Linked DNA regions of Homo sapiens: all the other regions are linked to region 3. The links come from fine-mapping of genetic effects on gene expression. A gene starts in region 3. Each other region holds a variant in brackets. All regions are shown on one strand. Distances are between the middles of the regions. Region 1 overlaps CASQ1 (calsequestrin 1). Region 2 holds the start of OR10K1 (olfactory receptor family 10 subfamily K member 1). Region 3 holds the start of ACKR1 (atypical chemokine receptor 1 (Duffy blood group)).

Evidence for each region. PIP is the estimated chance that this variant, and not a neighbour inherited with it, causes the effect.
Region 1: its variant is fine-mapped to the expression of ACKR1 in whole blood (GTEx, PIP above 0.99).
Region 2: its variant is fine-mapped to the expression of ACKR1 in whole blood (GTEx, PIP 0.96).

Annotation. Positions count from the first base shown.
Region 1 is chr1:160,195,603-160,206,906 of GRCh38, reverse strand. CASQ1 (calsequestrin 1) reads right to left here. Exons shown (of 11, transcript NM_001231.5): 6 at 10,880-11,010; 7 at 9,293-9,338; 8 at 8,176-8,230; 9 at 7,854-7,954; 10 at 6,982-7,056; 11 at 5,021-5,662. The coding sequence ends at 5,531. It overlaps PEA15-AS1 (PEA15 antisense RNA 1), which reads left to right. Exons shown (of 5, transcript NR_123725.1): 3 at 531-1,569; 4 at 1,773-1,836; 5 at 4,391-4,708. It overlaps PEA15 (proliferation and apoptosis adaptor protein 15), which reads right to left and starts at 1,523. Exons shown (of 4, transcript NM_003768.5): 1 at 1,385-1,523. RefSeq lists a silencer at 1,408-1,667 and enhancers at 1,818-1,867, 2,218-2,317. The variant C/T (reference allele first, on the strand shown) is at 5,898.
Region 2 is chr1:158,456,876-158,468,179 of GRCh38, reverse strand. It overlaps OR10K1 (olfactory receptor family 10 subfamily K member 1), which reads right to left and starts at 6,346. Exons shown (of 2, transcript NM_001004473.2): 1 at 6,276-6,346; 2 at 722-2,774. The coding sequence starts at 2,618. The coding sequence ends at 1,677. LOC107985212 (a long non-coding RNA gene) reads left to right here and starts at 5,409. Exons shown (of 2, transcript XR_001738256.3): 1 at 5,409-6,009; 2 at 6,430-8,593. The variant C/G (reference allele first, on the strand shown) is at 5,127.
Region 3 is chr1:159,201,263-159,209,270 of GRCh38, reverse strand. ACKR1 (atypical chemokine receptor 1 (Duffy blood group)) reads right to left here and starts at 4,396. Exons shown (of 2, transcript NM_002036.4): 1 at 4,291-4,396; 2 at 2,771-3,810. The coding sequence starts at 4,311. The coding sequence ends at 2,821. CADM3 (cell adhesion molecule 3) reads right to left here. Exons shown (of 9, transcript NM_001127173.3): 9 at 5,958-8,008. It overlaps CADM3-AS1 (CADM3 antisense RNA 1), which reads left to right and starts at 6,849. Exons shown (of 4, transcript NR_037870.1): 1 at 6,849-7,021; 2 at 7,650-8,008.

The sequences.
Region 1 (11,304 bases), 1.0 Mb before region 3:
ATCACTGGCAATTTCCCCAATGGAGTATTTAACCACAAAGGGAAGAGCAATTAAAGCTAATCGCTCTGACAGCCTGGGGCCCAGACACACGTACCACTTTCCCTAACTCCCAGTGGTCTCCCCCAACCTTCATCCTCCCTAATTTGTTTAGTGCACTCTCAAACACTGTTTGCACTTCTCTGACCATCTCTTTCTCTCACTTCCTCCCTCTCCCTGGTTCCCTGACTATCTCTAGACCTCTCTGGAGATGTCTGTCTGCTTCTCACACACATTCCTCTCATTCTCTCTCTGACTTGGGTTCCATTCTTGGCTGACTCATACCCATTCTTTTTCCTCTCCGTTTCTTCCACCCCCTCCTCCTCCATCCCTTGGCCACTCTTACCCAGAAACTAGCCACTCCCAGCACGCTAAGCCCTAACTGGACCCAGGAAGAGAAGCCACCAGAAGCCCCTACCCTCATTAGTCCGCAAAATCCTGTCTCCTTGTGTTAGAGGAATGAGACCAAGATTTTCTCCCATCTTTCCCCACAGTTTTAAAGAGGAACAATCTGAAACCATGGGGCTGGGAAAAGCTGCCAGAAAATCAGGATGGATTTGGGGACAGTGGCCCTTTCTGTCCACTCAGCTGTCCTGTCGGACTGATGACTTGGAGCCCGCAGTTCAGAAGACTCCTCATGGGATGCCCCACCCCACAGAGTGGGGGTGTGGTGGGCGGCCGGATGCGTAGTCCAGGGACGTTTGTGATTTGGAGTGTGCTAGACTATGTGTATAAGTCACATGGGTGTGTGTCACTGTGTGTGCTGGCGTGCCTTATAGGTGTGCGTGTTTCCCTGTCAGTTTTGACACGGATTATATGAAATTAATAAGGGTTTTTACGTTAGATATACATCACTTCTCTACACCCCCAGCTCCTCCTTCCCTCTGGACAAGCTTTCCGCCAAGCCCACCTCTTCCCCAGGTGCAGTGAGCTGGGGGTGAGGGCACATGGTACCAGCCGCCCGCGGAACCGAGACAGGGCTGGGCCGGGAGACCGCCAGCGGAGGCGAGTCCGAAGCCTGAGCGGGGAGGGAGGGGCGGGCGCTGGCCTGGCCGAGCCGGCTGGGCGGGAAGCAGGCTGCATCCTAATCCACAGGCCCCGGTCCGACTCCCAAACTGCCGTTCAGCGTGGAACGGGCTGGCCGGAGCCACGCCGCCTCCAGCACACGCTCGGCGCTCGGGACGCACCGACCGAGGGACGGACCCCGTGAGGCCTGACACAAAGTGGACTCGTCCGGGGTCCCCACACTCCCCGTCTGGCCCCCGGTGTCCCAGATCGTTGCCCCTCCAAGCCTAGACCCCGAAATCTGCCCCTTCCCCGCGACATGTCTCCTCTCCGCCCCTCTCACCGCCTCTGGAGCTGAGCGCTCAGGGCGCGGGCACTCCTGAGTCCCCGGTTCCTAAGCAGCGTCCGGAACCTCCTCCTCGGCTCCCGCCGCCGCCGCCGCCGCTTCTGCCGCCGCCGCCGCCTCTTCCGCCCGCGGAGCCGGAGCCCGAGCCCAGCGCCGCTCACTCCACCCGGCTGGCCGGTGATGTCAGAGCCGGGGAGGGGCGGGGGGCGGGGAATGGCGGGAGGAGGGGGAGGGATGGAGAGGCAGGAGGGGGCGGGGGACCGAGGGGCTGGGGTTCTGGAAGACTCCTAGGATGGGGGACAGAATTGGGCGGAGGGCTGGAGCGGAGACGGTCTCTTCCCCCTGAACTGCGAAACAATTCTCATATTTAATTCTTACCCAGTAGGGCACCCTCCTCCCCTTTTGACCTTTGGATGACCACGGTGCCTAGGACCCCTGGGAGGCACAGAGTAGGTTTGGTTTAGGGGGTTGGAAAGCCTTTGGGGGCTGGATTCTCTTAGCTGCTGGCTTTAATATTTGTAAAAACTTCTTGCCTTGCCTTAAGGGTCAGGGGCGCAGTGGAAAATGACTGATCAGACTTATCCACATTGGGAGTGAGGGGTTGGGGCCACATGGGGACTTGAGGAGCCCTGGATCTTCTCTTTCCAGGATGATGCCTTCAGGCCCTCTTGCGTGCCTCTCACCTTTCCCAAACATGCCCCACTCCTGCCTTCCCCCTACCATGATGTAATTTTATTTTCTGGGGAGAAAAAGAGCAGCAGTGAGCTCAGCATGCAAATATAGACAACTTGCAAAGCCACACTTAGCTCCATCTCCTAGCTCTGCCCCTCTGCCCAGGCCCAATGTGGCAGCTCTCACTTCCCCTCTACCCCAGGGACTTTCCTCCCCCAGATTCTCAGCCAGACTGAAAAGAGGAAAGGAAGAATTGGAGAAGCATCTGTTTTCACCCCCATCTCTATAGCCTAAGGGGTCTTGCCTCAGCTCTGGGCAGGGTTTGGCCCTGGAAAGAAGTCTGACCCTGGGTAGGTCCTTCCTGCCAGGAACTCCAGCAGGCCCAGGTTGGGGGATTCCCCTCAGTGTTTGTGCCACTTCCAGGATCACCCATCTCATCTCAGTTCCTACCTGGCAGAGACTCCTCCAGAAACCTCAAACGAGCCCCTCCTTTCTTGGGTCTACACCATTCCTAGAAGAGGCCCAAGTTCCTGCTGCTCTGGGTTTCATAGCATTTCTCTGCTGTTTCCTCTCCCCAGCATTCCCTGTCACACACTAATCATTTGCCTTTGTATATATCATGTTTGCTCTGTGTTGTAGGGACAAAAACTATTTCGTTGACCCATCTTTGAGACTCATGTAGTTTCTAAGTGAAAGGCTCAGGTCTGGAGGCAACAAGACACAGGGGCCTTGGGCTGCGTGCTAGTTCCACCCATTCCTTGGGCAAGTTATGCCTGAAAGCCTTAGTGTCCTCACCGGTCAGATCAGGGTGCCAATGTCTATTTCTGAGGGTTCTTCTGAGATTCAGAAATAGTAAGTCTCTAGGGACTGGCACAGATGGGTGCTTAAAAAATAGGAGCTATTATTTAGACCGGGGCCTTCCACTGACCTATGCTAGACAGTAAGCTCCACAATATTATTGTAAGACTAGCTTAGTGCCCATACTACTTATTAAACATTTATTAAATAGCTACAAGTTGGAATGAATACATAGTTTCTGCTTTCTACACCCCTGCCACATTCTCTAGGAACACTTCCTGGACTTGTCTGTGGAGAGTGAAAATATATCTAATCTCAGGTCTCATCTTTCCGTACTTAGAAATCCTCTAAGTCTCTCAGCAACAACTTTACACCTGATCCATGAAAAATATAATGTTGGCTTGGCGTGGTGGCTCACGCCTGTAATCCCAGCACTTTGGGAGGCTGAGGCAGGTGGATCACCTGAGGTCAGGAGTTCAAGACTAGCCTGACCAACATGGTGAAACCCCATCTCTACTAAAACTACAAAAAAGTTAGCTGAGTGTGGTGGTGGGCACCTGTAGTCCCAGTTACCTGGGAGGCTGAGATAGGAGAATCTCTTGAACCCGGGAGTCGGAGGTTGCAGTGAACCGAGATCTCACCACTGCACTCCAACCTGGCAACAGAGTGAGACTCCATCTCAAAAAAAAAAAAAAAAAAGAAAAAAATATATATATATACACACACATATATATGTATATGTATATATATATAATGTTTATTATTTATGGGCATCATCTCAAAAATATATATATAATGTTTATTATTTATGGGCTTGTTTAGCTATTTGTATATATTATATATATAAAATGTTTATTGTTCATGGGCATCATCTCAAAACTATATATGTATATGTTTATTATTTATGGGCTTATTTAGCTATTTGGCCCTCCCATCCCCAACTCCCTAAACTCCTTTTTGCTTACCCCAGCCTGGGCCTATTCTGGAAAGACTGTGGGTCCTTCTTGCCAAGACCTCCAGCAGGCCCAGGTCTGGGAGATCCCCATTGTATACAATATCTCCTCTCCATTCCCATGGCCACCACTTGGGTCCATGTTCTCCCAACATCACTCCAATTATTATAACAGTCACTGATTATGGGTTGGGCCCCTTACCTCTGGCATCTCCATCATCTCCCCTCCCCATCCTGCTTATCGCTACCAGATTAAATTTTGCCCTGCCTCCTCGGCTGGCAGGATTCAATTCAAACAGCTCTACAACCCAGCCCCATTATGCTTACCCAACTTCATGGCCACAACTTGATTTTTCTTCTTGTCTCTCTGGTCTCTGTGCCCCCAATATGACAAACATATCCTGCCAGTACTTGATGTTTTCCACTGACTGAAATGTCTCCTCCTCAGCTCCTTTGTCTCCAACCAAATCCCATTCTTCAATTTAAGGCCTAGTAAAGGCTTACTTCCTTTGTGAAGTCATCAAGCCCACTCTGATCTCTCTTCTGAGTTCATTCTGTTCTTTCCTTTGTTCTTCCTTTAGGAAACATTTACTAGGGACAACTTTTGAGTGTCAGACCCTGTGGACACAAAGAAAAAGCTTGGGTTCCTGCCTTCAAGGGGCTCACAGTTGAGTGGGGAAGACAGACACGTAAATGAAGAACAATAACAGACTGTGCTGAGTACTGGAATGGAAGTGCAGCAGGAACTCAGAAGAGGTCATCACTGGAGGGGCCACCTCTGGGAAGGCTTCACCAAGGAAGTATAATTGGAGCTCTGTCTTGATGTTCAAATAAGAGCTGCAGAGAGGGTGCTATCGAGCAGCACATAATCACTTAATTACATATTGCTTTGTATTCTTCTTCGATTGTTTAGTATGCTTGTCTTGACTTCTCCGTGAGGCTAATCAGCTCAAGATCAGGGACAGGCCTAGCACTCTCTGTTCTCCCAGAGCCTAACAGTGGCCCTGGACAAACACCATGTGTTCAGAAAAGGCTTGTTGACTTGAAGCAGATTAACAATCCAGGCTTCTCTGGGAAAGCTGCCTGGAGGAACCCCAGTCCCCACTATAAGAGTCCCCCAGCTCATCCCTAGCAAGGCACCCACATCTGAATTCCCCATCAGTGGCCACCTCCTCCTGCCATAGGGGTGAGACTTCACCAAAATACACTTGTTCATGCTGCCCCAGATGTCTTTATTGAGGCCTCTCATTTGACCCAAATACATTAACAAGTGATTGCTGAGATACAGTCCCAAACACAGTATTCTCCCTTCCTTCTGGCCAAGGACAGGACAGTCAGAAAGATACAGGATTAGAGAGAGTGGGGGAAAGCTGTGCATAGATGGAGGGAACAGAACAGAGATGGGGCCCATATATATGGCTAGAGGAGAATCACAAGAAAGAGTATGGAGAGTGATGGAAGAGACACATAATAGATACAAGTAAGTTATGGGATAAGAAACAGAAGTCAGATAAGAGAGAGCTGGCCTGGTGTCTAGGGAAAAGTAGCTCATTTGCTCATCAAATGAGGGGGATCAGTGTCTCAGCACCCAGCATATAGACCCCAGTTAGCTCTATGGCAGAGAATAACCTAGTCTCCCTGGAGGAACTCAGGGAAGGACAAGGGAAGGCAGGAGAGAGCATGAAAAGACCAGTGGGGCTGAAAGATGGTTGCCATAGCAACTAGTCATCATCATCATCGTCATCGTCCTCTGTGTTGATCTCGCCCTCCAGGACATCCTCCAGCCAGTCCTCCAGCTCCTCAGCAGAAGGCAGGTCCTCCTCATCGTCCATTTCCATCCATACGCTATCCGCCTAGGAGATGGCACAGGCAGGGACGGAAGCTAAGTCCAACCCGGGTCTTAGGATCTGTCTTCCCACTCACTGGACTCTGTACATCCTTCCCTACATTCTCAGTCCCTTCCTTTCATCTGCCAAAGGCCAGGGAAACTGTCCAGGTGAAGGTATGGGTTATGGGTTAGAATAGTGACAGGTGAGAGTGGGAAGAAAAGTTGGATTGGCAAATAGACCTTCTCCCTTCAATCTGTCT[C/T]CCGTGCTCTTGCCACACTGAACTTCCCTATTATGCCTTTGGTGCAAAACCACTGGTAGCTCTTCATGGCTTATAAGAATAAAGTTAGCAACTCTTCGGCATTCAGGACATTTCTTTCTTTCTTTCTTTTCTAAAAGAGACATGGTCTCACTCTATTGCCCGGGCTGAAGCGCAGAGGGGCAGTCATGGCTCACTGCAGCCTTGAACACCTGGCCTCAAGTGATTCTCCCACCTTGGCCTCCCAAAATGCTGGGATTACAGGCCTGAGCCACTACCCTGGCCCCAGGGCTTTTCATAACCTGCTTTTCTAGTACCATTCTCAGTGATCTCTAGACTCTCAACCATAAAAATCCACCTGCCTTTTCCGGGAACCTGATATTCATTTTCCTGTTTTTAACTTTTGATCTTGCTTTTTCCTCAGTTTGGAAATGACTTCCCTGAATCATCACTTGTTGAAATCGTATACATTGTAGAATCTCCATTTTGAATATCACTTTTTCTTAAACTTTTCTCTGATTCTGTCAAGCAGAAATCAATGTGATCCTGTGTCTTATTTGTATCGTTATTATAAAGTTTATCAGATCTGGCCTTGTAGTTAATGGAACACTTGCCTCTCTAATTAGTCTGAGAATTCTATGAAAGCAGAGACTGTGGCTCATTCAGTTCAACTTAGCAGTTTTGAAGCACCTACTGTGTGTGCATAAGAAGACTTCTGCCCTGAACAAGCTCAAAAATCTACTGGAAGAGACACACATAATACATAAATAGCCATTTAAATGTCATGTTCTCAATGGCTATTGAGCCCTGGGAGTGCCAGGGAGGGAATGATTTTAAATGGGAGATCTGGAAAGACTTCACAGAGGAGAAAGAATTTGAACTGGGCCTTGAAGGATGAGCCACTGATTCCAACATGTGGGACAGGGCCACATTCAGATCCTAAGTCTCCCCCTCCATCCAGCCACTAGACTGGGCATGTCTGCGTCCTGTGAGAAGGGCCCAACTCCTAGTTAGCAGAGAGGAGGAGAGCTAGCTATGCTAGGAAGTAGAGTCGGGGGTCAACCCGGGATGAGGACAGGAAACTCACATCAGTAACATTGACGACTCCTATTTGTGGGGCTGACAAGTCGATGTCAAACGTCTTCTCCCAGTATGGGACCAGCTGTAGAGAGATCAAAATACAGCAACTTAATAGATACTAGGGAGCACATGAATCCAGGAGGATGAGTGTGAGGGTCAGCCCAGGGATGGAGAGGGGACAGTGCGAACTGGCAGTGGATGGGGACAGGTCCACCTGTGAGGGCATCAAGGCAAGGGTAGAACTAAACAACAAAAGAGGAGAAATCCTAAAGGGAGAGAATCGGGAGGGTCAGCTGGGTGCACTGGCCCCTCTTTTCTGAGGAAAACTGGATAGGAAACCCTGTTCTGATCCTGGATCAGATCCTTGTGTTCAAGGTCAAGTCACTTCTCTCTGGCCCTCAGATCTTACATTTCTAAAATAAGGCAAGTATACCTGGTAAGTGCCAATGTTTCTCACGTTTCTCTTTGTTCTTTCAGTTACTCATTCAACAGCGAGTGCTAGGTGTTGGGAATGTAGCTGAGAACAAAATCATCTCCTGAAACAGGGAATCTCTGTGCTATGATTCTATGATTGAGTGTGTATACCCATGTGCAGGACTATTGTGCCTCACAACATTGGTTTTCTTTAGGAGTCAGCCCTAGCACCTGAGCTACCCATCCAGCCTCTGCTCTGGGAATGTGTGTGATGTCCGTCCTGTTTCCCCTTGCTCAGGATGCCCTCCATGCCAACAGTGCCCTTAAGCATGCAACACGCATACCCTCCCAGGGCCCCCCAGCTAGGAGGTGGGGATGGGACCTCTGAAACAAAGCCCTCACTAAGAAGATGTCACAGTCCAAGGCCCCACCTTAAGATAGCAGTGCCTGAGCTGTGCCTCTTACCAGGGGGAAGTCATCAGGGTCAATCCAGATGATGCTAAGATCTGGGTTTTCAGTGTTATCTTGGGCCACAGCCTTGAGAGTCTCTAAGAACTCGAAACCATCTTGGAGGGAACACAAGTACAAGGTATGAGGTGTGTAGAGAGGAAAGGGACCCAGGTGAAACAGGAGTGCAGAGCTACCTCCCTGCTCCCCAAGCTTCACATGTCTAGCCCTAGGCTGTTTGCAAACTCCCAGGAAAGCCTCCTAGTGAGGCCCATGCTCCAATAAACACACCCACCTCCCCCTGCCTTCCCTCCAGTCCAACCCGGTATTCCTCCCTCACCAGGATCAGCTTCCTCTGCGAAGGCCACAATGTGGATTCCATCCATATCATCCTCCTGTCAGGGGGTAAGAAGGAGAACAGGGTTTTGGAGAAGACCTTACTATACTCCCTGAAGTTGAGGAGCCCAGAACAGATCCTAGATGTTCATTGAACCTCAATTTTGTGGAAATCCAGCTTCAGGACCAGATATATTCTTTCGTTTTTTGGGGTTTGTTTTTTTTTGTTTTTGAGACAGAGTTTCACTCTGTCCCCCAGGGTAGAGTGCAATGGCGCGATCTCGGCTCACTGCAACCTCCGCCTCCCGGGTTCAAGCGATTCTCCTGCCTCAGCCTCCTGAGTAGCTGGGATTACAGCCATGCGCCACCACACCTGGCTAATTTTGTATTTTTAGTACAACATTGTTTCACCTTGTTGATCGGGCTGGTCTCAAACTCCTGACCTCAGATGATCTGCCTGCCTCAGCCTCCCAAAGTGCTGGGATTACAGGCGTGAGCCACTGCGCCTGGCCATATATATTCTTGTGATGGTGACCTTTTTCCAAGTGACACTCCTTTCAGCTCCAAGGCCCCACACTTCCTCTGATAATCCCTTTATCCCCAGGCTTGAGGCTCTTCCCTTGTCATCTTCAATTATGTCTGTCTCCCATTTCCTCACACATTCTTCAGTGTAGAAATCTTTCAGTTGCTGCTAGTGCACTGTTTTTTCTTTTTTCTTTTTTTTTGAGACGGAGTCTCACTCTGTCCCCCAGGCTGGTGTGCAGTGGCGGATCACTGCAAGCTCCGCCTCCTGGGTTCAAGCCATTCTCCTGCCTCAGCCTCCCAAGTAGCTGGGACTACAGGCGCCCGCCACCACACCCTGCTATTTTTTTTGTATTTTCAGTAGAGATGGGGTTTCACTGTGTTAGCCAGGATGGTCTCGATCTCCTGACCTCGTGATCCACCCACCTTGGCCTCCCAAAGTGCTGGGATTACAGGCATGAGCCACCACACCCAGCTGGTCAGTGCACTGTTTTTTCTAAAAATGGGCCTGAGGAGCAGTAGGGTGGGGTTTTTCTAGGACTTGAGTCTTCTGGCACCCATGCTTCCCTGAGGGCTTGACCCTGGCCAGGGGCACTCACCCAGGTCTCATACATACTCTCCGGCTTCAGTTTCCTCAGGGTTGATCTAGAAGAGACAGACAGAGTGTCATTACTCAGTGGGTTAGAAGGATGCCCCCTCCAGAGGGTCCTGTAGCAAAGGCTGCCTCTAGGTCAGGCCCAGGGCACAGACAGCTTGTAGCCTACAACAAAGCCATCTGGCAAGGCCTCAACTCTGGGCACCAGGCCCGGCTCATTGCATGGTTAAAGCGGTGGGAGAGGGGAGGGTGGGCAAAGGGACTGGAAGAGAGACTGGGGGAGAAAGGCAAGAACTGGACATCAGGATATTCATTAATTTATTCATTCATTCACTCACTCACTATGATTGAGTGCCCGATATGTTCTAAGCACTATGCTAGGTGCTGGGTACATACAGTTGAACCAGGCAAGCATGTTCCTGCCTTGATGAAGGGAGCCAGTAGTATGGGAGAGTAAGTACTGTATATACTGCAAGGGAGCTTGCAGTGATCCACCACTGCACGCTAGCCTGGGGGACAGAGTGATTGGATATTTCCAGCTGTGGACTACTATGAAGGAAGGGAATTATGTGTGAGTGCCCGGCAGGATTATTCAACCTCAGCACTATTGCCATTTGGAGCCAGATAATTCTTTGTAGTAGGGGGCTGTCCTGCGCACTGTAGAATGTTTAGCAGTATCCCTGGGCTCTAGCCACTAAATACTAGTAGCACTCTGCACAACCAAAAATGTGTCTAGACATTGCCAAACATCCTTTGGAGGGCAAAAACCTATGCCCACCTCGCCACGCCTTCCCACCTTGTAGAGAACCATTGGTGTACGATATTGTATTAGAAAGAACATGGGGCCAGGCGCAGTGGCTCATGCCTGTAATCCCAGCACTTTGGGAGACCGAGGCAGGCGCATCACTTGAGGTCAGGAGTTTGAGACCAGCCAGGCCAACGTGGTGAAACCCCATCTCTACTAAAAATACAAAAATTAGCCAGGTGTGGTGGCGTGCCTGTAATTCCAGCTACCTGGGAGGCTGAGGAAGGAGAATCGCTTGAACCTGGGAGGCGGAGGCTGCAGTGAGCCAAGATGGCGCCACTGTGCTCCAGCCTAGGGGATAGAGTAAGACTCGGTCTCGGAAGAAAAAAAAAAAAAGAAGAAGAAGAAAAAAAGAACAAACATGGGACACATCAGGGTTAAAATCAGGGTTAAAAGCTCTGACACTTATTACCTGTAGAAACTTTCACTGAGGTTAAAAGGACTTAATATAATCATAGAGATGGAAAGTACCTTGCAGTTCCTGCCCCACCACAGGCAGTCAACACTCATTTGTTGACAGAGATTATTTAAGTCTCAATCAACCTCACACTGAATTATACACACTTATGAAGGACCCTCTCGGTGTAGGGCTCAGGGCTAAGTAGTGGGGTATAAAATATTGTGCAAAATTGTCAGTGTATCAGAGAGCACTGGTGCCCAAAGTGTATTCATCTCCAGGCAAGATTGGCTTCCCGGTTGGCTAAGCTTTCCCCAGCCCATCTCACACAGTGTGTTCTAGCCCAAGGAGGAGCCGACCCCGCTGAGAGGGTTGCCCTTGGTCCCCACCTCCTGTGCTCCTCCACGAAGTTGACAATCTCCTCTTCGCTATTGGGCTTGTCTGGGATGGTCACAGGCTCTTCCATGAAGGCCTCGTAGAAATCAATCTCATTCAGCTTCAGGGTCAGCTTCTTTGCCACCTTTGGGAGAGGGGGTAGGAGGGGAGTGGAGCAGGAGACACAGGGTCATGTCGAGAAGCAGTATAATGGGGGAACAAATATTAGGAAGGGAGTCAGAAAGCCGGGATCCTTGTCACTGCCACTGTGACACCTGACAAGTGTCTTAACTTGCCTGGGGTTGGGTTTAACATGAGAGGGGTGTTAGATCATCTAAAGCCCCTCTTCAGCTCTAAATCTATGGAGTGGGAGGAGCCGGGGGGGGGGGCAGGTAGGGAGTGCCAGCACGTAGGAAGGGACCAGGTCAGCCATCGATTC
Region 2 (11,304 bases), 740 kb after region 3:
AAACTGGATCCCTTCCTTACACCTTATACAAAAATTTATTCCAGATGGATAAAAGACTTACATGTTAGACCTAAAACCATAAAAACCCTAGAAGAAAACCTAGGCAGTACCATTCAGGGCATAGGCATGGGCAAGGCCTTCATGTCTAAACACCAAAGGCAATGGCAACAAAAGCCAAAATTGACAAATGGGATCTAATTAAACTAAAGAGCTTCTGCACAGCAAAAGAAAATACCATCAGAGTGAACAGGCAACCTACAGGATGGGAGAAAATATCATGTTTTACACCATAAATATATATAATTTTGTCAATTGAAAAGCATTTTTAAAACAGCATTTATACAGGCCTTCTTTGCTTGTCTCCAACTCATCCAGTTCTTGCTTCAGGGGTTTTGTACACATTGTTTCTTCTGTCCTAAAGGATATCCCCTTTACCTGAAGACTTTTAATTACCCTTCAGGTTACATGCAGGTTAACTCTCAGTTTCTCTGGGAAACCAACCCTATGCCATTCGATCTAAATTAGGTTTATCTTAGTATTCTCTCCTCTATCGCCTGCATGCACTTTTTCTTCAGAGAATCAACTTAAACTGGTAAGGTATTTTCCCTCATTTTTCTGTTTACTGGGACTATCTTGAACCAGGCAATAAGGCCTATGAGGGCAGAGACCACATTTATTTTGTTCATCACATTTATTTGTTTTAAAACAAGCAAATAGTTGGTTAGCTTCAGAGTGTACAAAAGGCATATAGAAAATGGAGAATAACAAAATTAGAAATGATAATACTGAAGAGGTAGGTGGAAACTAGATGATAGATTCATGACAATGAAGGACCCTTGGCATTATCTTGTAGGGCAAAGGGAGTCACTGGAGGGTTTTCCATGAGTTTTCTGGTCATTCTAGGAATCTAGCCTTCTATTAATATTAACTCAAGCCCTTTGCTTGGAATTACTTGAGATATTTCAGCAAGTAGGCAATGCTAGTAGCTTCCTTGAAGAGAGCAAATTAGTATGGTGTCTCAGGAACAAATGTGGGGGCTAAGACACACTAGTATGTGAAGGACATACATGTGCATCAGGAAGAGAACCATAAAGTGGTTCCACCTCAAACAAAGGAAGAACAAAACAACCCCAAGTAAAGGCCAAGATATTTCAATATGTAGGTTAAGGAAATGAATTGGGGACAAAAAGGACCACCAAGATTTGTAGCAGAATGTGTGGGACCAAAGTTTTCTGTTGTCTTTAGGAAAAGAAAAGTACGGATAGATGGATTTCCTGCTGTTTTCCTTTTTTTTTTCTTTTTTCTTTCTTTTTTTTTTTTTGGATACATCTTTTCTTTCCTGATGTATCCAAGCTCTCTACTTCAAGACACAGCTCTCATCAGTTTAGATGCATCTTTGCTCTCATATTAGTTTTTAAATTAGCAATATTTAAAGCAGTAAAATATAATTAAATTTGTTATGGAACTGTGTGCTCTGTTCCCATATCTGATTAGTCTTGTTAAAGTATCATGGAGAGTAGAAAGCCAGACTGTCTTAACTTCTGTGAGCCTCATTCTTCTCATATGTAAAATGTTCTTATGTTACAGTGGAGCTGGACAATTAAATGAAAAAAAATGTATAAAACACACGTTCTGCCTGGCATGTACTAGGCATTAGTAGTTTAAAAAATAGCTCTTTAACTAAGAGGATAGAAAGTTTGGCCGATTGTTCTTCGTAGGGCTGATTTGAATTCCTTATTTCTCAGACTATAAATCATTGGATTGAACAATGGGGTAAGGATGGTGTATGACACAGATATTAGGGTGTCTTGGCTTGAAGTGTAATTAGTCTTGGGCCTTAAGTAGATGAAAGAGGCACAACTGTAGTGAACAGTTACCACAATGAGATGGGAGGCACAGGTGGAGAAGGTCTTGTATCTTCCAACGGAGGAAGGGATTTTTAGAATGGCAGAGATGATGCGGATGTAGGAGACTAGGATAAGTAGCAGAGGAATGACCAAGGCAAATACACCAAGCATGAATATGACCAGCTGACTGAAGCCGGAGTGCTGAGATGCCAGTTTAAGGACAGGGGAGATGTCACAGAAGAAGTGATGGAGCTGGTTGGAGGAGTGGAAGGGCAGATGAAATACTAGGGAGGTGGTGACCAGGGAGACAGTGAAGCCACAGGCACAGGCAGCAGCCATTAGTCCCATACACACCCCATGTCCCATGAGCACTGAGTAGCGCAGTGGGTTACAGATGGCCATATAGCGATCATAGCCCATGGCTGCCAGCAGGAAGGAGTGAGAGGAGCCAAAGAAGAGGAAGGAAAACATTTGGATGGCACAGCCCAGGAAAGAAATGGTCTTCTTCTGGGACAGCAGGTCAACCAGCATCTTGGGTACAATGACAAAGGTATAGCAAATCTCAGAGCAAGAAAGGATGGCAAGGAAGAAGTACATGGGAGTATGAAGGGCTCTGTCCAGCACAATGGTGGAAATGATGATTGCATTGGTGCCCAGAGTGAACAGGTAGAGGAGCAGGAAGATAACAAAGAGCAGCTGCTGCAGCCTGGCCAGGGATGAGAAGCCGAGGACGACGAACTCTCTCACCACAGTCTTATTGACTTGCTCCATGGAGAGCACTTCTATAAAGGAGAGTCAGGGACAGAGGTAGAAACCAGGATCCAGAAAGGAGAGTGGAAATGTACGGGAAATTTCACACAAAGTTTGCAGGTGGCAGGCATTTCCAGATATTTGATGGAATTCTTCATTCCCCCATTAAAATGCCTGCTAAAAGAAGAATTAGGCAAAATATGCAAAAGAATAACTGATAGCCAGTTTGGAGGCCTTCTCTAATGTGAAGAACAGGTTATCTCTCTGACCAAGGATTAGGAAATTTGCTAATAGTTTTCCTTCTTATGTAACAGAGAGATTGTTGTTTTTGTCACTTACTATAAACCCAAGGCAACTCACTCTCCAAAGTGGAAAACGTTAACTTCAGCTACCTGAAGCTGATCAGAATATAGAACGAAAGAATGAATAATATTCAGACATAATCATGTGGACTTCAGTTTATCCAACCATGAAATGAGAAAGGAGATAAAGTATTCCATGGTCTCTAAGTAAAGATGTGAGCACACATCTATTTACTGGGAACTTTTTATATCTCCAAGGGAACAATAAGAAATACTATTGGAAGTTCCACAAGTTGAAACATTGAGTCAACAGTGAAACAAAAAATAACATTAGCCAGATGTGGTGGCTCACACCTGTAATCCCAGCACTTTGAGAAGCCAAGGTGGGTGGATTGCTTGAGGCCAGGGGTTCAAGACCAGCCTCGGCAACATGGCAAAACCTGGTCTTTACTAAAAGTACAAAAATTAGCCAGGTATGGCAGCACACACCTGTAATCCCAGCTACTCGGGAGGCTGAGGCATGAGATTCACTTGAGCCCGGGAGGCGGAGGTTGCAGTGAGCCAAGATTGTGCCTCTGCACTCCAGACTGGGTGACACAGTGAGAATCTGTCTCAAAAATAAATAAATAAAATAAAATAAAAATAAATAACATTAGTGCATTAGTATAAAGAAAAAAATTCTTCTTTCAGGAAGAGAATAGTCACCAGGGTGGTAAAGAGAGATGACTGACTTTGTGGCATTTTGTAACACACTTCACTTTTCCATGCTGAGCTAACTTGGAGAAACTCAGAGAAATAAGAGTTTTGTAGAAATGACAGAGCTTGCTACAGAGTGTGAGAGAGAATGGCACACTTGGGAATTTTGCCAGTTTCCCCTCTCCTGCTGTAAACCATAGGCTTTGTATCTTTTGTATGTTGTTATGTTAATAAGATTTCTTTTGAACATTCTGCCACTAAAAATATTTTGCAAACTGCCATTACAAATTATTTCTAAAATCATCTTAGGCCTAATTTTTTTCACTGGAACATTTTTCAATAACCCAACCTAATAAGTAAAAAAAGCACTATCTGGATACAAAATCATCCAGTATGTCTTGCTGGTATCCAGTCTTCATTTATATACTTCTGAAGTTACTACATCATTTTGTCTTGGGAAATTATTGGCATCTGCTACCAGAATTTTGTTGCTGTTACTTTTCCATTTTTCTATTCAATAGCAACTTTTTTTGTTTCCTGAATCCTAAGTTAATTCATCAGGCATTCTTGAAATTCATTATATCTATTCATAGAATTTGGAGATGATTTTTTTTCTTTCTTACTTACTAGAAACTGGTCCTAAACTTAGTTAATATAATTACTTATTTTAATAACGTTAGTATAACTATAAAGATATTACTATTGTACATAAACATAGAAAAAGTAAACACAATGTATACCTCCATTGATATTTGTGTATGAGTGTGTGTGTATTAGTTATATGTTTTTATATACAGAAAGGTAAAAGTTTCCCTACATAATACCTCCTTCTGGACAAATGATTTCCTGTCTATTCAAAACAATGAGGAAATCTAAACTTATGGTCATTGCTTAGCCTTGCCTCATTGCTTTCCCAAAAGACTTTCATTTGAATCTTCTTTCAACTAATCAACCTTTAACCGCCACTAGGCCCTCACTTGACTGAATATGATGAATAATGTAAACCATGGAAGCTGGAATTCTCTGATTCTGAAGGAGTACCTGTATCTAACTGATACCAAAGAGAATTGTTTGGATTATTTTTTGCTCAGGCACATGAGGACAGCTGATTCTAGTCCAGTGGATTTTTACATAGTATTAATATAAATCCATAGCCTAAATGAATCATGTGATCGATATAATTGCCTTTTTATGATCTATGGATTCAGCTCCATGGTGCATCTGAGAAGGCAGCCCCCATCTGCTCAAGATGCCATTAGGGACCACCATAGTGTGTTGTCATCTGTACTGATAGAAAGACTTAAGACCAGGAAAATAAAAATTCTCATCCTACAAAATACGTTCAAGCTGTAAAATGAAGATGAAAGATCTTTAGGGTGATGTGAAAAGATTTAGGTTTCAGGTCTAGTCTTCTGTGACTTTAGATGAAGTATATACCTTCAATATTTAGTTTTTTTTTTAATTAAAGGGATAGCATAAACAGTAATGGAATAAACTGTTGGGATATGTGGAAGGCACTGAAGCAGAGGAT[C/G]CCTGAACATTTTACAGAGGAATTTTGACTAAGATAGTATCGGAGTACTATGACCCCTAGGAGCCTTTCTTGCTCAGAGAATCAAAGACTCTCTAGTTAGATGATCTCAAAATCCCCTTAATTGTGATATTTTAGAACGTATGAATAGAATTCAGGCTATGATCCTTGGAGATGCTACTTCAGTGTTTTATTTTTCTAATTCCTCAGATGCTCCACTGGGATTTTATGTAATCTGGATTTAAATAGAAACAAAGTACTTGAGGGTGCTGGGTTCCCCCAAAAGAAGGCAATCTACAGAGTTTTCACGTGTAAAACTTTTAAGAAATATAAATATTTATTTTAAGGAAAACATCAATCAGTTAGCTGAGAGAAATTATGTAAGCAGCTTCAGATAATAAAGGAGTGAAATTTTAACTTCTTAGATACAAATAAAAATCTTTAATTTCTCCAGATTGCCATATTAAAATGGAGTTTAAGTACTAGATTTCAATTATACCTAAAATTATACATCCAGGAGTACACAGCAGAAACAGAAGTAGAAGAGTGAGAGATGAGAGACAAGTGGAGTATCTGTTTCATTTAATCCATGAATCCACCAATGAACAAAAAAGAGAAGTAGAGGAGGAAGGAAGGAAGGAAAGAAGGAAGGGAGGAAGGAAGTAAGGAAGAAAGGAAGGAAGGAAGGAAAAGAAAAAAGAAAATAAAATCTAGCTATGAGTAAGAATGACCCAATATGATCTTCAAGAACAATTCAGATAATTTTTTTTTTTTTTTCAGAAGGAGTCTCACTCTGTTTCCCAGGCTGGAATGCAATGGCACGGTCTCGGCTCACTGCAACTTCTGCCTCCCAGGTTCAAGAAATTCTCCTGCCTCAGCCTCCCAGGTAGCTGGGATTACAGGTGCACGCAACCATGCCTGGCTAATTTTTTTATTTTTAGTAGAGACGGGGTTTCATCATGTTGGCCAGGTTGGTCTCAAACTCCTGACCTCAGGTGATTCACCCATCTTGTCCTCTCAAAGTGTTGGGATTGCAGGGGTGAGCCACTACACCCAGCCAAATTCTGAGAATTATAAAGGCCATTCCCAGTCACTCTTAGTAAGTTCAGTGAAAGGTAGCCTCTGATTCTCCTTTTTAACTCTGCTACTTACCAGAAATGCCATCACTGATCTCCATGGGAGGCACAGAAAGAGGCTTTCTCAAACACTACCCATCATTCAAGTCCAGTCCCCACAAATCCCCAAGCTAGGTCAATGTTCCCACTGCTCGGTAAGTACTTACATTGCTCTCTCCCTTCTAATTTAGAGAGAAGCAGCTATTCAGTATTTGGCAGTCTCCTGACAAGTAGCACCACTGCCACAAATCAGAGCCTGAGGAAATAACAGCAAATGAGAGGGAAGCTGCCTTGAGATAGAAACTCTCATCTGAATCAACAGAGCTAGCCTCCTCCATCTATCAGGACTCCCAGCTTCTCCAGATAAGTCACCATCTTCAGAAGTTCTGATGACCAACGTGGGATGTGGTTATTAGAAGCATGTACTGTAAACACTGGACTCCTGAGGTTAGATCTACTGCACTGGAGCTGTTGTCTTGGGGTTAATTAGGAGTCAAGTTCATTTTGGAAAAAATAATGTCACCAGTTTCTCAAAGGTGGCCTCAGTTGAGGAGCCTGGGGAGTTGAAGTCATGAGCATAATTAGCCCATGTATGCTTTGAAAGTTGAGTCCATTTGAAAGTTGTGATGGATTCTGAAGGAGAGCCCACCACAATTAAGACTGTAATGCAACAGACCAAGTGGAAAATTTTTACTGAATTTTAATCAGAAGACTGATGTATTTGTCCAATGACACTCAACTTCAGTGTTTCTAAGAATCAAAAGAGGGTTGAATGATGTTTTCCAGGGCGCTGCCCCTAGAAACTCTAATTAAGAACATTGAGATGTTTTGCAAAAACCTAAAATTTTAGTAAGTATACTAAATCTAGTTGAGCTCTGTCATCAAACAGTGTGTTATCTTATTAATGCATTTTACCAGAATGACAAAATAATATAGAGTTGTGAATTTTGTTCAAGCTAATCTATAAAGCCAATATAATTCCAACCCAAATCCATGCATAAATTTTGAAGTCACCCTGACAATCAGATTTCCAAAATTTTCATGAAATTATAAAACAATTTTGTAAAGGGCAAGTAATATAGGCCCTCACTCTTCCTAGTAAAAAAAAACTATGCTTTAGTAATAAAAAAGAGCATGCTATTGGTGCAAGAAGAAATAAGTAGTATAGAGACAGAAAGGAGAGCTCAGAAATTAATGTATGTGTATTTGAGAACTTGGTCTTTGGCAGAAGTGACCTCACAAGTCAGTGAGAGAATTATAATTATGTACTAAATAATACTGGGAAGCCTCTGTGTATTCCACCGCTCAGAAGGAGGTGACCTGGTGGAATATGAAACGGTTTACTTGAGGCTCAGTTACTGCACTGGCTCTGTGCCAATACCTAGTACAGCCCCATGTGTCTGCCCAAAGCAGAATATACTCTGAACCAGCAGCCAAAGGATTGTGTTCATTCTCTACTAACAAGAATGTATAAGTCTGAGAACCGACGTTTAAGGGGAGATGAAATGAATCCTTCTGTTATTACTCCTAATGACTTATATGCATAAGTTTGAGCTTTGTGGATTAGAAGTGTTATTTCACAAAGGAGTGTTACTTCCACCAGAAAACACAAAAATGGTGATTGAGATGGCCCCTTGGCCACTTCAGTCTACTTTGTCCTTCTGTACCAGTAATCTACAGACAGAAATGAATCCTGTTTTTTAACGAAAAATAGGGTGTTGCCGCTACACTACCAAGGCAGAAAATAGTATGTCTAGAATCTAGATGTTCTAGGGCATTTTTTATTACTTCATATATAAAGGCAAAATTTAATAGAAGACTAAAACAACCTAATTTAGGCAGTCACTAATAGTTCAAGCCCTTCAGAAATGTTGGGGTATTAGGTGAGTTCAAAAGAATATAAACAGGTGACATTTTAAAAAGTCATAAGCATCAGTGATAGTCATGTTTACTTACAGAAACAAGGATTGCAGTAGCTGTTTTATTTTACTGCTTGCTTTATTATGTATATATGTGTATGTTGATCATTTTCCCATCTTGTCTTAACCTACCAGTATATATAAGGTGTGTTGATGTTACAAAACATTATAATTCCATCTACAAAGAAAAGGCTATCAAATAATTTATTGTTTCATTTTTAGAGATAAATGTGGGTACCTCTTTATGTGAGATGTATTTTCGTTATATTCGTTATTACTGTTTGGAAATTTAAACATCAACAGAAGGATGTGTATGGATGGTGAATATCTAAAAGGGAAACCTGTGCTGACTATATTTTACTGATATTTAGTATCATACTTACACTTCTAAGTTCTCTGTACCACAATGTAGGAATAAAAATTCTGGAAATCCTGATGTCTGTTTTCCATATCACCTTGCCAAAAGGGTTTTACAAAAAAGGAGCATTCATGAAATATGTGGATGCAGAAGGGGGAAGCCAGTTGTTTGGGGCAGGGTGATATGCCAGCACTTATCAGATGATAGATGTGGACTTTAGCCCTTCACGTTCAGATTTTCTGAGAATCATCCATCAGTACTGAAGCAGCCAAGATCATCTGTGAGGGCTTCCTGTGATCCTTGCAATTCGGAAAATCAAGAGCAGCTTTCCTGACATTTATTCTCCTAATCTTCCAATACATACATAAGCCTCTATTTTCTCTATCAAACCTATTATTTTAAATTCATAGACTCTCAAAAAGTAACAATATGTAAACCTACCTCAATCTTTGCAATAGATGCTAGAGTTGTGATTTTTCTTGTCCATAGTTGGAATAACTTTATAAATGCCATTTTATTAATTTTTATAAATTTCTCAGAGTTTGGATAAATGAAATAGTTTTTTGAAAAATTGTGCATTACCCACAAAATGAAATTGCTGATTGAAAATCTATTCTTATTTCAAATTTTAATATGCATTGTGTTGGCATATAATCTCCACAAAGGTTATAAAACTTATACTTTCATTAACAATATGTGAAGATGCCAATTTCTCCATAATGTATATGATGTTACTTTTAATCTTTTAAATTCTAGCCAAGATGAAATATAAAAATCATACCGTGCTCCCATTTACATTTCTTTGATTAATAGTAGAGGTAAGCACTTTAAAAAAAATTATCAGACACTGTTATCCAACTTTTGAAAATTATCTATTTATTTTCCTATTACATTTTTTCTTTATAGATTTGAGAGACTACTTGGTTCAATAATTGTGTTTGACCTTTGAATTAAAAGTGTTCCACCTTGTCTTTTATTTTTATTAGAAAACTTTTAATACTAACAATTAACCTTATAGAGGATTAACTTACATCATATAAAATGTTCCCAACTTAAATGTACAGTTTGGTACATTTAAGCAATACTAAGCAACAACACCCCAATCAAATTACAAAGAATTTCTACAATGCCAGAAATCTCCCCCTCCAGCCCTGTGGTCAATTCTACCCAGATTTGGTCCCAGAAACACTCCAATCAAATTACAGAGCATTCCTACAATGCCAGAACTCTCCCCCTCCCCACTTGTGGTCAGTTCTACTCAGTCTTGGTCCCAGAAAAACAGTAATCTGTTTTCTGTTAATATGGTTTGGCCTTTTCCAGAATTTCATGTAAATTGAATCATACAGTATGATAACTTTTGTGTCTAGTTTCTTTCTCTTAGCATATTTCTGAGATTCACTCATGTTGTGTCATTTGTCAGTTCATTCTTTTTATTGCTTAATAGTATTCCATTTTATGAATACACTGCAATTTATTCAGTGAAGGATAAATCGAACTGTTGAAAGATACTTGGATTCTTTCTCGTTGGAGGCTAATAGGAATAAAACTGTTATGAACATAAGTTTCCCAGTCATTGTATAGACATATATGTTCATTTATCTTTGGTACATACCTAGGAGTGGAGTGACTCTGCCACATCATAGGTATAAATTTAGCTATTTATAAACCTCCAAGCTGTTTTTCAAAGAAGTTGTATCATAATTCAATCCTACCAACAATGTTGTAAAAATTCCAGTGGTTTCTTATCTTATCCACCTCTAGGCATTGTCAGTTTTTTAATTTATCACATGTGTAGATATCTATCCTTTTAGTTTTATTAGGCATTCTTTTGAAGAATAATTATATTGAGCATTTGTATGGGCTCTGTGGCTATTTGTATATCTTGTTTTTTGAAGTGTGTGTTCAAACCTTTGACCATCTTTTAATTATGTGTCTTCCCTTTTTATATAAGAGATATATATTTATTCTGGATACAAGCTCTTTATTAGGTATATATTTTGTAAATATGTTAGCCTAGCATGTGAATCACCTTTCCATTTCATTAATCATTCCTTTTTATATAAATTTTTGAGCTATAATTTTATATCATAAAATCTGTACTTTTTATTTATATAGTCCAGTGATTTTTAGTATTTTCACAGAGTTCTACACCCATCAAATTGCCTAACTTTTTAAAAGCAGAAGTTTTTAATTTTGACATAGTTCAATTTATCATTTTTTTCTTTTTATGATTCATGTTTTCTGTCTCCTGTCTAATAAGTCTTTGTCTACTCCAAGTTGAAGAAATTTTCCCCTGTGCTTTCTTTAAAATGTGTACAGTTTTGACATTTTTAAGTTGCAATGTCTATATGAGGTGAAATTATGTATGTGGTGGTGTAAGGATCAACTTTAATTTTTTTTGGATGGGTATCCAATATTTCCAGAACAGTATGTTGAGAAACTATTCTCTCCTTATCAAACTACCTTGACAACTTTATTGAAAATCAATTAAGCATATATGCATAAGACTATTTCTATAATATACATTCTGTTCCATTGATTTGTATGTCTATTTTTATGATAATATCACTTAGTCAATGTCATTCTATAATATGTCTTGAAATTGTGTGCTAATATATTTTAAATGTTTTTCTATATTTCTAAATTGCTTTATTTTACATGCTTTGCATTTTCATATACATTTTATAATCAATGTGTCAATTTCTAGAGAAAATCACACCAGGATTTATATTGTGATTGTGTTTAACTATAGATCAAACTGGGGGGTAATTGCCATCCTGACTATTTTG
Region 3 (8,008 bases):
AGCATACGATGGTTTTCATGCAAATCTCTGGCAATTAGAGTTGGCGATGAATTGGGTTTGAAATCCCAGTGAAGTTCTCAATCAGAATTCCTCTGAGGGAGGAAGGTGGTGATGGGGTTGGGGGATAGGGAAATAGGAATGGAAAAAGGGTGTGAGGACCAAGTATTTGTTTTCTAAATCCTAAGGGAGGGGCCTCAGCTTGGAATAAATGAACTATGAGCGTCAATGTGATGTTCAAACTTCCCTTGAATAATAGATCTCTCTCCTTTAGAAAGCAAAGCAAACTGACCTTCCTCAGGGTCCTGTGTTTTCCCAAGAGCTTGCTTCCCTGGCTCTCATCTTTCTGAGAGGATTTTTTTCTTTAGCTAGGATGCCCAATATCTCATACACAGCTAAAGTCCCTGCCAACCCTAAGATTAAATTCTTAAGGGCTTTAAGGAGACAGGATTTGTATTCCTGAAGGGTTGCAGAAAAGATGCCAGACTCAGACCAATTTTAGAGTGGTTGATGGCATGCAGTGGGTTAAATGCATGGGGTGGCAGGTCCCCAAGAAAGCTTTAAAGAAATGACTGAGGTCCGGGTTAGACTTAAGGAGGAGCTCTCCAAGTGCTGCCTAGGTAATGGCAGGGAAAGGGCAGCCCAAAAGGCCTGGAGCAATCCCGGTGGGGGTGGGGATGAGGAGGATGTAGCAGGGGGCGGGGGTAGGGCACTGTCTCCAGCCCACCCTAACCTCTTAGCAGCTTCGGGCTTCTGCAGCTGCCTTTCCCTTGTGAAAGCCATGAGAGCTGCCAAGCTATTACCCAGGAGTCTGGGGTTCTCTCTAACTGGACTGACTGACCAGGGATTTCTATCCAGAGGCACAGGGTTGGGGGCAGATAAGACAAGCCTACTGGTCTTAAATTAAGCCTCCCTTGCATCAGGTTGACACTGGAAGATTCAGGGAGTCAAAAACGCCCTCTCCTCCCCCTCAACTAGGTCAGCTTCCAAATCAGTACCTTGTAAGGGAGGACAGCAACATCTGGTAGAATTGCAAGAGTGGTCAAGGACGGGAGGGGGATATTGAGAGAAGCCTGGAAAAAAAAAAGCGGGGGAAAAAATACTAGAACACATTCATGAACTGTGGTTGGAAACCAGAGCATAATTTAGGTTTGTAAATTATTTCCTTTCTCTTCATTTTCTCTCCCTTCCTTTCTGTTTCAGAATGTCTCCCGCGTCTCAATCGGTCCCTAAATCCCGCCTTTCAATTGAGGACGAACCAATCAGGAGCTAACCTGGTGGTTGCTAAGAGACAGGAGGTGGGAGATTTAGAGGCCTTGTCGTGGCACCCACCCAGGAAAATTCCCTAAGCCTTTTGCACCCTCCTGCCTAAGCTATTCTAACTCATCTCTGCACCTCTCCCGCACTCGCCTACTATTCCCAAGCCCAGAGAGTCAAGCAGAAACATTTTAGTAAAGAAACCAGGTATAGCATATCTTTGGAAAATGGTAAGATGGTAATTGGGTTCAAACTGATAGAACGTATCTGCTCAAGTTTCCCCAGCCTTTAGTTGGGTTAGAGGTAGGAACTAACTGTTTTGTAGCCTCTTGGGTAGAGGGTGAATTTGCTCTTGGTGGTAAAAGCTGTGCCCCTGATGAGGAGGGGTTTCTGTCCTTCCAGCCATCTAAACTTGGGTAGGTAGAGACTGAGAAAAATCTCAAAGGTCATGATTAAGCAGCCAGAGAATCAGGGGTTGGGAAAAAGGTGCCCAGGGGATTGGGGTATTGTGTGGAAGGTGGAAGGAAAGATGTATGTGGGAAATAAAGGTTTATTTCAAAAGCTGAGATTCTGAAAGGGAAATTCGGGGAATTCCAAGCAGAAGATGAATCAAATCAGGGCCTCCCCCTTCAAGTTTCTCCACCCTTCACAACTTCTTGATCTTTTCTTCCCTCCACACATCCTACACAGAAAAGACTAGGCTTAAAAACCAGGGTAAAGAAAACTCATTTGGGTAAGGAGTGAGTCATAAATCCCGATTCTATATCCTGTGAACAGGGATGAGTGCAGAATTGAGTGGGGGTTTGGGTCCTGAGAAAAGTCAGTGCACACGCACAGGTGTGCGCAGTTCAGGTGCTGACAGAGATGCAAGCTCATGGGTGGACATATGTTTTTACATGCATACATCTAACATAAAGGTAGATTCTAACAGATCGAGAAACAGATGTGTACACACACACACACACACACACGCACGCACATTCAGGTCATGCTGAGGAACCTGGGAGAGATGACTCCCAGGAAGTGGCTTTTTAAATTACCTTGATATGTTCCCTGAACTGAGTAACATCCCCTGGGATGCTTCTTTCACCTTCCCCACCACTGTCCTAATCACTAAACAAAGCCAGAGAGGAGACAGAAGACAGAGGCTGGGCAGGTTGGACAGGGGGAGGTGGTATTGCTCTGGGCTTTGTCATCACTCTTCACTGTTTATCTCTCAGTTTGAGTTCCTATTCCATTTGCTTCCCAGAACAGCTTTTTTTCCAGCTAAGCCATCCCTTCTGTTTTTTTTGGTTTAATGACTCCCCTCATGCTCTGGTTCCTCTTCTCTTCTCCCTTGAGATGGCCGTGACCCCACACCTCAAGAGAACATCTGTGTACCCTGAGGGTATTTATTCATCATTCACCTTCTTCCCAAGCCAGCTATAGAAGCAGACACTGGCAAGAAAGTCTGACATAAAAATGTCTCTCTCTCCATTCTCCTTCTTCTCCCCAGACAAAATAAGAAACCACCCGCTTCACAAAGGCAGTGTAGACTTTAATTCAGGTTGACAGGTGGGAAGAGAACTAGGATTTGCTTCCAAGGGTGTCCAGATGAGAAGACCATCCTTCAGGGAGGGGCAGAGAGGGCAAGAGGGTGCGGGTGGCCTGGTGGCAGAATAGGGCGAGGAGCAGGGGCGTAGCCACACAGTGCAAAATTGCCAGGGCTTCTGCCAGGTTCAGCAGCAGGTCCAGAGCCTGCTGGGCCAGACATGTTGACAACAGCAACAGCTTGGACCTCACCAGGAAATCCAGTCCTAGAACCACCCCATGAGGCCACCAGAAAATAAACCAGGCCCACAGGATATTCATCCAGGGGCCTGGCCCCATACCCAATGCCTTCTTCAGCCCCTTGGCTCCAAACAAACCCAATGGCAACAAGACAAAGATGGCAAGACAGGCTACAGTGTGTGTGGCCTGCAAAGCCTTCAGCTCCGTGCTGTATATCAGGGTGCAGAGTCCACCAGAAGCACCACTGGCCAGGGTGACAGGCAGTGTCAGTAGGGCAGCCACTCCCCAAATTCCCACAGTGAGCCCCAGGGTGAGGCCTGGGACCTGGCCTGCACCCAGTCTGTGGCCCAGGGAGGCATGGCACCCTAGCAGCAAAGCCTGGGCAAAGGCTGAGCCATACCAGACACAGTAGCCCAGGCTACACAGGGCAGAGCTGCGAGTGCTACCTAGCCCTGGGGCCAAGACGGGCACCACAATGCTGAAGAGGGCACTGCCCACAGCCAGCTGTGCCAGGACAGGCCAGCCAGGGCAGAGCTGCCAGCGGAAGAGAGGTCTGAAAAGCATGAAGAGGACAGTGCTGCTAGCTAGGATACCCAGGACACTGGTGAGGATGAAGAAGGGCAGTGCAGAGTCATCCAGCAGGTTACAGGAGTGGCAGGGGGCAGCTGCTTCCAGGTTGGCACCATAGTCTCCATCTGGGAAGGAATCATTCACACCATAGGAAGAATTCCATACATCTTCGAAGTCCAGCTGACTTGAGTTCTCAGTTGAGGGGGAGAGCTCCGCCTGGAGGACATACCCAGAGGAGGCCATCAGAGTTACACCGGAAGAGTCTCCTGGGAATTGAGGGGCAGGTGGGAGGGGAGGACAGAGAGGAAGGTCGGGTGGGAGAACAAGGTCTCTGCAGGAGTCAGATGCAGTGCGGACAGTGGAAAAGGACAAAGCAGGGAGCCTGAAGAGCCGGAGCAGGAACAGTCCTGGGGAAGCCAGGGCAGCTGGGGCTGGAGGAGCAGTGCAAGGTCAGAAGGAAAAGGCACCAAGAGACCAGGATGGAACTGACTCAAAGGCAAAGGGAGGGACACAAGAGGGAGCTAGGAGGCTAGCATAGGAAGGAGAGAAGGAAAAAGACTTTGAAGGAAGAGGAAAAAAGCAGGAAGGGAGAAAAGATGAGGAGGAAAAGGAAGAGATATAAAGACTGAGGGGCAAACAGCAGGGGAAATGAGGGGCATAGGGATAAGGGACTCTGGGGCCTGGCCCCATACTCACCCTGTGCAGACAGTTCCCCATGGCACCGTTTGGTTCAGGCCCGCAGACAGAAGGGCTGGGACGGCTGTCAGCGCCTGTGCTTCCAAGATAAGAGCCAAGGACTAATGAGGGCCATCAGGTTCTGGGCAGGGACAGGGGGCATCAGGAAGCCTTACCCCACGCCCACTGCCTGCACAAGCCTCAGGCCTATGGGGGTCACTGGCCTTGGGTCTTCCTGTTTTGAGGTTGGATTTGGCTGGTTGGGACTACACTCAGGAAAAAGGTGGGGACCAGAAAGTGGGCATTTTACCGAAGTGGAAAGGGAGATTGAGAAAACAGGGGGCTTTCCAGCAAGTAGAGATTTTACCGAAGTGGAAAGGGAGATTGAGAAAACAGGGGGCTTTCCAGCAAGGAGAGATTCTTCAAGCACAAGGAAGGAAGAGAGGGGGGCTGGGTGACTTGTGAGGCAGAGATAAGGGAGGTGCTGGGAAATTGGAGTGGAAGGGCGGCTGACTCTCACTGCTCCTCCATCCCCTTGAACTGGATCCAAGGAAAGGCAGTTCAAAAGCCATGTGTTTGGGAGAAAGGTGGTGGTGGTCAACTCTGTCCCAACTGAGGGGTGTGTGCACGTGGGCGTGAGCTCTTTGTGTGTACTGAACTCTGTGTACGTTTGCTGTGTATCATTGTGCACATATCTGTATGTGAGGGGCTTGGCGGGTGTCTGGGTGTGTCTAGCTATCTCTAGGTCTGGGTGTTTCAGTGTGAGAGTGGGAGGGTTGGGGTGGCTGTCGAGGCTGCATAATGAAGCCATTTCAGGGAGCTATTGGGTGTTTGCCTAGCCACCTATGGGCTCAGTGCATGCCTCTTGCATATGAAGTGGAATACATGGTCTGACAAGTTAAAGTAGGCTCTAGGGGACAATGGGACAGCATATTTTAAAATGGGACCATTGCCCACAGGGTGATTTCTATTCATATTTCTACTGGGGGACATAAAGTCTCTGGAACTGTTTCATTGGCCAGGCATCTTAGCAATATGTAAAGTTTCTCACTGAGGGGCAGAGCTGGCCAGCAGAGAGAAAGGGCATCTACCCTGCAGGCAGGCCGATTCTCCCAAGCACATTTCACTTTTTTAGTGGCTTCTTCCCCCTCCCTCCCCTCCTCAGCTGTTTCCCCAGGATCGTCACTGTTTCATCACCCCTCTCTGCTTTTATTTCCTCAGCTAGGGAGACATAGTGGGGACTTTGGGAGCGGTGAGCCATGGCGTGTCCAAGTCAGAACAATGAGATAGAAAGGGCTGGTTAGGGGACGCTGTTTCATTTGTCCAAAACAGCATCGGCTGCTTCATCTCCAGTGTTGTTAAGGACCTTCTGTCCCATTCATGTAGGGCTTCCTAGGGGGCCAAGCACCTCAGACCTAAGGTGCAGAAGGATGGGTACCTCGTAGAGATTTCCCCCTTTTCTCCCAAGACACTAGCTCAAGTTTCAGGTTCAACATGAAGGGGCTGGAAAGTGAATTTGGTCTGGTGGTGTCTGGTGATGCTCTGCAGGGTGGGGTTGATGGCATCTCCATCGCCGTCTTAACATTCTCCAGCAATGCCTGGCAGAGGGTGGGGGGAAGCAGTCAGATGCCCCCCAAGACACTCTCTGGAAAGGAAGGGCTTAGCAAAAGGAAGTGAACACACTTCTCTCCCTTGTAGAGTTATATTGTTGCTGTACATAGATATTCTTGAGAGTGGCCTGGCAAGGGACACACCACCTTTTGAGGCACCAGGCACCAGGTGCAAGGGGTATGGGAAGAAGACCCTCACATACACACATCCCAGCAGCAGCAAGAGGACCAGAAAGGAGGCAGCTGAATGACACGGATAATCCAGATATATTGAGGGTGACCCCTCTGAGATTAGCACAGGAGAGTTAGAAAGATTATAAAGATACACGGTCCCCTCCCTGCTCCCTTCCCCCACCCCCCCACCCCTGGACAGACACACACAGCACAACAGCCCCTCTCCCTCCCACCCCCCCGTACAAATATGGCTTCTGTGTAATATGGACAGAGTGGTTCAGCTTGAAGAGGAAAAGTCATTTTCCCAAAAGCGGGTGCTGGGAGACAAGAAGCTCAACAGGCCTGGGGCCCCAGGGCTCTCTTGCTGTTGTAAGAGGAGTAGGCCCCGGCTTAGGTGAGGGGCTGCCTGTGGTGCCCAAGGCCCTAACCAGCGGCTGGAAGATTCACAACTGTATTACCTGAACTGAAGGGGGTGGGCAGGCCTGCTAGATTGCAGCTGCCCCTTTTTGCATGCCCATTGTCAGACCAGGGAGGAAAAGCTGGGGGAGGGTGGGAGCGATGCCAAGGGCATCCTGGATCTGAGGCGGGGCAGTCCAGCCAGGACAGGGAGGACCAGGAACCTCATCTCCACAGCAACCAGCTGGGGCCACGAGAAGGAAGACAGGAAATCAAAAGGAAGGGTGGGGACCCAGCCTTCAACTCACTGGGTACAGACTATGGGAAAAAATAGGTGGTGGTAGGTCTTTCCAGGGTCAACGCCAAGGAGAGGCCTGAGAGGTGCATAGCAAAGGCTGTGGCACTGACTCCATGGCTCAGAGGAGGGAAATCCAGGGAAGGGCTGAATGCTCTGTGTTTAAGGGAGAGATAGAATGGACAGCTGGGCAAACACACACCCGGGGACTCCTTTCTCCAAGACCGATGGGCATTGGGGGTGGCAGAGGAAATACCAGCATGGAACAACATCCCAGGTGAGGTGTGAACCCTGACTAGGAATACCCCATTCCCAAAGCCTCCCCAACATGTCCCACAGCCCTGTCCACTTGCCCAGGACCCCTGGCTCTTAGCCCTCCTCCTCAGTTCCTCGCTCTGCCTCTCACTCACTCACACACATGCACACACACACACACACATGCACACATGCATACACACCACACACATGCACACAGTTCACATTATTCCCTTAGTTTGGGCAGGAAACAGCTCACTGCAGTGAAGCTCCTTTTAGTAGTTTTGTTGTTATGTCTGCCTGGCTGCTGAGGGAGGAAGGATGAAGGGCTGGCGTTGGGACCAGGAAGGGGGCACAGGGTGGCCGGGAAGGGAGAAGTAGTTGCTGAGCAATGCCATGGGAGGAGTGGTTGCCGTGCAACAATCCAGAGTCTTGGGTAAGAGTGAGGGGCCCCTCAGGGGGGGAAGCAGAGGCAGTTCAGGCCCCAGAGCAGTGCCTCTCCCACTGCTGCTGGAGCAAGGAGGGGCAGCCACACTCTGCTATCTCCAAGGGCAGTTCCTATGGAAAGGGCCCGGCTTTGTTCATTTCCGGGGGGAATGGGGTGAGAGTCCACCTCCATCCTTCCTCTCCAAATCTACTCTTCCTTGCAGGGACCCGCGTCCTCCCCAGGTTACAGTCCTGGGTCCCTGCATGGCTGCATGTTGTCTGCAGGCCACATCTCCTCAGGACTCCCGCACTCATCACTTTCCCATTGCTATGGAAGAGAGGTGTCAAGGTGGCACCTGCCTCCCTGTCCGTAGTGCTCAGGTGTGTGGCTACCAGAGGAAAAGCCACTCCCAACCTTTGCCGACAACCATCCCGTTTCTGGGTTCCTGGAGAAGTCTGGGAAGCTGCTCTGTTGTAGAGGCTGAAAGGAGGGCTGGTGAGAGCCCCCAGCTGAAACCAGCCCTGCCCCTTACCCTTCCTCACCCCTCTACCTTCACTCTCCTCCTAACACTCCAGGGTTTTG